Linked DNA regions of Homo sapiens. The protein of the gene in region 1 binds, or shares a complex with, the protein of each later gene. Each region holds a gene or a part of one and is shown on either strand. Other genes may lie near its edges.

Region 1 (3,957 bases):
AAATTTCAAATACTGAGAATTTAACAAAATCAACAAATCTGAAAAAAGATTTAGGAAACTACACACACCATTAACCACTGGGCATTCATCATCCTTGGGATCCTGAAGTCGTGAAAGCGCCAGAACTGCCTGTATTCTCACATTTGGAATCTTATCTTTCAATCTAATAAGCATGGCTTTATTAATTTTATCAAACACATCATCATCAATCTGAGCATTTTCTGGCATACTTCCCAAAAGCTTGTTTATGAGCAGGCACACTCTAAATCTCACTGCATTGCTGTTTGCTTCATGAGACTAAAACAGAAACAAATCAAAATTTATTCATAGTCACATACCACTCCCAAATAATCAATATTATCTGAACTCTATACATTCGGAATGCAAGAAGTTACAACAACAATTCATTTCCTGAAGAGAACCTATAATGCTACCTTGGTCCATATGTATAGCAAATATATATATTTTATACAGTCTCAAAATGAACAGTCTGAAAGAAGTCTTTGCTAAGTTACATAGTCCTCTTTGTAGAGGCTTCTAAAATACAGAACTCATTTAAAATAAACAAAGGAGAACTGGTTTAAAGAGGTCATTAAAAATTTAATGCTGGAGTTAAAGTCCACTTTTTAATCATAATGATAATTCTAATATTTCCTATGAAAGGTAGACTCATTCAGGTTTTTTCAATCACTAGATATTTCATTGTCAAAAACATACAAACTCCCACGACTCTTTTAAAGTGGCAAAATTTTCTAAAATCCCTCCCCAAAGCTATCATTTTCATAGTACCTTTAAGAGAAAAGTAAACAAATAATTTAAAAGGCCACCATCTTCCTCTTCCTCATCATCTTCCATATCTGATTGGTGAAATGAGGTAACAAACTTTGCTGCAAATTCTATTACCCTCTCCACAGCTGGTTCACGTTTATAGACCACCATAACATATTTAAGGTAATGAATGAACTCCTCATGAAAAACTGTCTTATCATCCATCTGAAAGACAAAAGAAACCCTTCATAAACTGCACCGATAAAAATCCTTTATTCCCAACATCACCCTAAGACTGATGAAAGCACTAGCCATAATAATGCAGACAAATTAAAATATTTATTTAGTAAACTCTTAATTATCCAAACCAGCCAAAGGGCAATCAATTTGCATGAATTTCTCTCCAGGCTATAATGGGAGTACACAAGCTTGACTTTTGACAGTGAAAAGATTCCTTTGATATATTTTTTTCAATATCTTTGATTCTCAATAAGCCTTTAGTACCAGTACGTTACAAATACGCTTCTTCAACAACCCAAAATCAATACTGGCTTTTATATTTCTCATATTCAGGCCTTCCTATCACCAGCAGTTTCTTTATGAGATAACTTGCACATCCTATCTCATATCCTCAAAGCCCTGTGATGTTTACTCACAATTTTTCTTGGACCTCAAGATAATTCATCTTCCCCAAATTAATTGTTCTATTCTTCTCAAGGTTCCACTCAAAACAAACAAATAGTATGTACATAAATAAGAATGGCCAGGCCCTAAAAATAATTTGGTATTTGGTGATTGGATTCAACGTAACCGTAGGACAAGGGTAGAATCATTTGATGTTCGGCGGGGAGCGATGACCCCAGGGGCAACGACCACTGAACCCCCGCATTCAGGATCCACTCTGCGGTTCAATATTTGATGTCTGATCGCCTCGGTGGTCGTAAATGTTTCTCTCCACGTTCACGATCGGACTAAGGAATAACGGTCCACGCCGCCCAGAAGCTGGGGGTGTCGGCTCAGAAAAGCCAAGGCGGGGCCCGTGTGAACGACGCCCAGGCTTCGGAGGCTTTCTGGCCTGGGCCCAGGCGACCTCGGGTAAGTCCCTGACTTCTCCGAACCTCAGATCCCTATGAAGTGAGTCGCGAAGGTGAACAAGGCTGGAGTCACGGTGCGCCGAGCCCGAGGGCCACGGAGGGCCCCTGAGGGAGGGTGGGCCGGGGCGGGCGAGAGGCGGCGGCCGGGGCCGGGAGCGCTTACCGTGCGGTAGGTGCGGCTCAGCGCCACCACCAGCTTCGCCTGGTTCTGGTGCGGCTGCTGCGCCAGCCGAAAGGCCTCCTTAATCGACAGCAGCCTCCTTTCCGCTCCCATGGCTCTGGAACCCTGCCGGGACGAGTCCTGCCCGCGCTCGGCTACAGCCTGCCAGCCCGCCAACCCAGAGGCAGCGCTCTCCGAGTAGTCTTCTATGACAGCCCCAGGGAGTATTTACCGCTCGAACGTTCAAATAATTCCCGCGAGAGGGGGAAATCCCGCGAGACTGCCGTAAGCGCTTTGGGAGAAGAGAGCGGGAAGCGATGGGTCCACCCACCTCGCACCCCGCGCTTTGGGCGCATGCGTCTAGGTTCAACCTTGTCCAGCCGTTTTCACGGAGGGAAGTGGCGTTTCTAAGGGGGAGGGGCCTTGACTCGGCCGGAAGTAGCGTCGGCGCGGGAGCTGAGCGGAGTGGCCTTGCCACCGGAGGGGAAGGGCTGCTGGCGTTAGGCCTGGCTGGGTCGTGCGGCTGAGCGTGAGGCTAGAAAGAAAAAGCGATCCTCCAAGAGTGAGAACGGGAGATCTGCCGAGGATAACAACCTCCCTTGTGGCCGAAGGGCGGGGGATCCCCACACGAGGGCTCCGCTTCGAGAGACGGCGACAAAGGAAAGTTCGTAGCGCGTTCCGGAGGCCCGGCCACCTCTGAGAAGGGAGACGACGCTGCTGGGTCCGCTGAGCGGGGCGACCCGAGGTTAGTGGAGACGGATGCTGTCTTTTGAAGGCCTTAGTCCCTGCCCTGGTGAAGCCGACTGCGAGGTTCCACAGGGCGTGCAGGCAGTCCGGGGATCGTTGCGAAGGGGGGTGCGGGCTAACTTAGCTGCTGCCGTTTCTAGATGTGCAGCTGTGTAGGCCCTGTTTACAAGTGTGCATAAGGACAGTGTATTAAGGGAGAACTCAAGAGAATGGAAAGGTCTTTCGGGTAGTGGTTAAAATAAAGAAGAGTAGGAACTAGGTTTTTAAATTTTAAATGAAATTATATCAGACAGAACTTCTGTTGGATCTCAGGATGCACCATCCAAAAATAGGACTGTAGGAGACCAAAATATGCCACCCTACAATATACTTCTAGAGTATATTTTGAGCTGGTATTCTGATAAAATGCAGACACAGGAGTCGCTCTGAAAATCTGTCCTGTTGTAAAAGAAATTGACATCTACAGAGGAAATATACATCAGTAAAGGATCTGTATCAGAAAGAGGGCAGCTCTGCGATAATTTTTGTTACCTGGGAGATCTTATCTGCATACCAAGACAACTTTTATTCACCGTATATTTCCTCCCCTCACCTTTCCACAACTTTGTGGCCACCATCCCCCAGAAAGCCGCAAGCCCCCATTTCTTGAGTAGCGTAGGATGCTGTATAATATTCAATCATCTGACCATGGTGGGACTCCTCTGCGTATGTAATTAAGTACGGGTTTTTTTTCTTGTTAATGTCTATGTCAGGTTAATTTGTAACCCAGCCAAAGAACCTAGGAGGATGGAGGGAAGCCGTTTTTCCCTCTCCTACACCTCAGTAACCTACTGCCAGCTGAAGAAATAGAACATTACTAAAGCCACCTGTACATCTTTCTCCTTTTGAATTACCTGCCCTCCGAAGAAGTAATGGATTTTCTGAATTTACTGTTAACTTTTACCATGCAGCTTTCTATATCTTAATGACATATTTTAATATATTAATGACATGAATAAATCCCTGAATGAGGATATTGTACTATTTTGCATGTTTTAACCGTTAAATGAATAATTATATGTGCATCTGGCTTTTTTCAATCAATATTGCTGTGGTTCATATTGATATGTTCATAATAGTAACTTGCACTTAATTAACCTTTATTATGTGCCAGACACCATGCTAAGCACTTTACTTCGTTTACTGCTC
Region 2 (3,600 bases), on another chromosome or scaffold:
GGAACATTCACCTTTGTATTATTTGGGAAGAAATGTTTTTTAAACAATTGTAAAGATCACATAAAAAGGTTCAGATTATCATGTGAACAAATTGGCTTTAGCATCCCATATACTTCAGAAGCACAAATGTAATATAAATTTGACAATTTATAAATTATTTACTTCGTTGGGACAATATTACATTAGCTTCCTTTATTACTGAATTACGTACAGAGATGCTGTACAGAGAAAAAAATTATCCTTAGAAGGGTTAAAATGCAGTGTATTTTGATGAATCTTTGGATAAATGTAAAACTTTGATTATCCCAGGATGACGGTAAAAGATTAAGCAAAAGATAAACATAAGTACAATTTCCTGCAAATTGGTATCATCATCAAATTTAGTATTATATAGGGACATAACTTTTTATCCATTATTAACCAAACCAAGTCCCAGAATATGTAAGTCAATAAAACAGTTCAATTTGATTTTAAAAACACACAAAATCCTTTAATGCCACATTCTATAAATTCCAATCTTGTTTAGAAATATATCTGCAATTAATTTCCTCAACATTAATTTTTAAATAAGTTTAGGTTGAAGTATTGCAAATATACTGTGCCTGGTAACAAAAGATATTAAAAAAGGTTATCCTAGAATGATACTGATTTACCTTGTATACTATGAATGTCTAAAAGTAATAATTTTTAGAAACAATTGAAGAATAAAGACTAAAATGGAAACAGAGGCTAACATTTTATAAGTTTGTTATTAGGAACATCCAGTCACCCTAACAAAATTCCCTACTTATTTCAGTCATTTCTGCATCACAAAATAGTTTTGCTTTTATTATGCTTCGGTGATTCTGGATAGAACACAGGAAAAGAAGATACCCTCGAATCAAACAGGAACTTGACAAAGCCATGGTTTTACCCTAATTTTTTTTTTTTCCGAAAAATTCTGAATTTTGAGGACAGGGAAAAAAAGATAGGGGATTTTTCTTACCAAGCCATGCTGGTAGAATATACTTTTACTTAAAGAAAACAGGGTTTCTAATAAAAATCAGTTTGGCACAGGTACTTAATTTTTACATCTCTTTAAAAGGACTTGCTCTGTAACAGCTCTGATACTTAACAATGTAATATCAAAGTTTCGTTCTTTCAGTAGTAGTGGTTCCACCAAGTAAGTCATTTTCAACAAAACAAAAACCAACTTGAGTAAAGGTTAAGTTAACCATCCAAAGTGTTACAAAGATTAAATTAACTAGGTGCTTAGGTAAATCAAACACCAAGTGTACAGATTTTTTCATTTTTTGGTTATATATCAGAAGAGATAATAAGAACAAAAACAAAGGAAAAGGATAGATTAAAATATAATACATTTCATTTAAAATGTTACCTTAAAGGGAAATACAAACAATTGATAAAATAGTTGCTGTATCCCTGTCACACTAAAGCAGCACAGTAATATTGGTGTTTAATATATATTTCACTACGCCAATATTTACGTGCTGCTAGAGTGGAACAAGTATGTCAGTTCATCCAAACATAAAACGAACATCTGATGATGAAAACATAGTTTTGAATGAATTTCCTTAAATTTCTAGAGCAGCAAATAATGATTCGCATCTTGACTGTAGCATGTAAACCATGATGTGCTGCTACAGTACTTTAAGGCCTCAAAAATGTAGGATTCATCCAACCTAGCTTTATAGAAAAAAAAGTAACAAGAATAAGAGAATCTTTGAAGTCTTTAATAAACTTACCTGTAAAATTAAAAATCTATTATGGTCCAAGTCAATTCCATGGCTTCGAAGAAGATTTCCAACATCCTTAAATGTCTTTTTCTTTCCACTTATGTGATAGACAGAAGTATTATCTCTGCAGGCCGTTCTGGATACATAGAAATTACTGTTAGGAATGACTTCATAATCATCCCCTTCCTGTTTTGAGGAAAAACAAAACCAGAAAACAATTGTTGGTATTAAGTCATAGGCCTACTTCAAAATTCACTCATTTCATACTGAAACTAATTCTATGGATTAAAAACTTCAATTGAACATGCACACAAACTGCCAGTAGTTCTCATTAATAACCCAACTTAGCAAAGAATTGATACTTTTCCATGCTGTTTTGGTCCCTTTCTCAAAGATCACAAAAATCAAGAAGCCAAACCAACCAGCCAACGAAAAAACCCACCTCCAAACAAGCCTAAAAACGTTTATGATTGAGAAGACGTAGACAAGATTCCCACCATATCCAAAACCCACACAAATTATTAACATGTTGACAGATTAAAAAGCTGCAGCTTTTTAAAATGATGATTCAAAGAAAAAGGAAGGAAGGTAGTAACCGGGTGATACACTTTAGTTTTTTTGTGTGGGAGGGTAAAGAGTGTGCCGTTAATTTAAAGTAAAAAGAATCACAAAGAAATAACAACTAAATTCCCTTGATTTTCTTTTAAACAGATTTTTAAAAAAATCAATTGCAAATCTACTTTAACACTTTCCCTTAACCTTAAAAGTTCTGTCATACTGAAGCAAAGGCTTCTAAAATTTAGATAAATCAAATGTAATTAATATGCAATGGAATAAAATCTGATTTCCTGGCAATCTATTTTCCAACCCAACTTGTACAATAGAAAGCACAAAAGAAACCAAATTAAAATAGATGATTCTGTGTAATTAAAGCACTTTGTATTAAAAAAAGGAAAACGAATTCAAAAGACAAATCACCTCCCAATTTCATTATGTAATTAGTTTTCTATATTTTTAGGTTCCATCGAGTCATTTTTGAACAATCAATTTCCTACATTATTAAACAGAAGAGAAAAAGTCTCAACAGGTAAATAATCTAGACATTTTACCTCTAGTTGTCTCCATTTCTAGAAAACAAACATTAGCTTGTCCTTCCCCCATTTCTAAAGGACTTAATTACAGCAGTAGTCAAACTGAAGCAAAGCTCTTTCATATCACAGATACTCAGGGGCCACTAACATTAGAGTTAAAATGCACTGAAATAATGAAGATGGTAAAACCGGCTAACTGCTACATTTTCAAGTTTAGCTAATTTATTCTAAAGCAATCAAAATATAACTTTAAAAATGAACTGAATATTTATAGTAAAATAATGCCTATTTAGTACTCAGGACCCTAAAACTGCTCAATGCTTTTATTCCAAAAAGGATTACTATGAACTATTTATACTTCATTTCTTTAGCTAAAAAATAAGTATTTTAACAGGCACCACCACTCCCCCAAAATAAAATACGGTCAGAGATAATGAAACCAATGCTTTCCGCTGTAATTACATACAAATTTCTTAAAGCCAAAAATAAAATATGTAATGCATTTAAGTCCATTTTCCTTACTTGAACTTGCCAATAACAGTAAAAATCCCTTACCTTATCAATTATCTTTTGAAAATGAACTTCTACTGTACAACTCTGAATGTCCTTGTGTTCATCAGAATTATGTATTAATACTGAGAGTTTTTTAGATCTTATTTTTTGTGCTCGATAGCCAAACACAAAAAGCATAGAATCAATAACATTGGATTTGCCACTGCCATTTGGCCCGATAATACAGGAAAAGCGCTGCATTAAAAAAACAAAAACAAAAC

What was found. The genes of interacting proteins can lie anywhere in the genome.
Region 2: NCAPG (region 1) and SMC4 share a complex: the UniProt entries of both Homo sapiens proteins name them as parts of the condensin complex.

What each region holds. Positions count from the first base shown.
Region 1 is NC_000004.12:17,809,257-17,813,213, reverse strand, and holds the start of NCAPG (condensin complex subunit 3), read right to left. Parts: upstream 2,236-3,957; 5' UTR 2,137-2,235; coding exon 2,026-2,136; intron 994-2,025; coding exon 790-993; intron 298-789; coding exon 69-297; intron 1-68. UniProt on the Homo sapiens protein: Regulatory subunit of the condensin complex, a complex required for conversion of interphase chromatin into mitotic-like condense chromosomes.
Region 2 is NC_000003.12:160,402,650-160,406,249, reverse strand, and holds part of SMC4 (structural maintenance of chromosomes protein 4), read right to left. Parts: intron 3,575-3,600; coding exon 3,383-3,574; intron 1,923-3,382; coding exon 1,746-1,922; intron 1,663-1,745; exon of another isoform or gene 1,565-1,662; intron 1,506-1,564; exon of another isoform or gene 1,425-1,505; intron 1-1,424. UniProt on the Homo sapiens protein: Central component of the condensin complex, a complex required for conversion of interphase chromatin into mitotic-like condense chromosomes.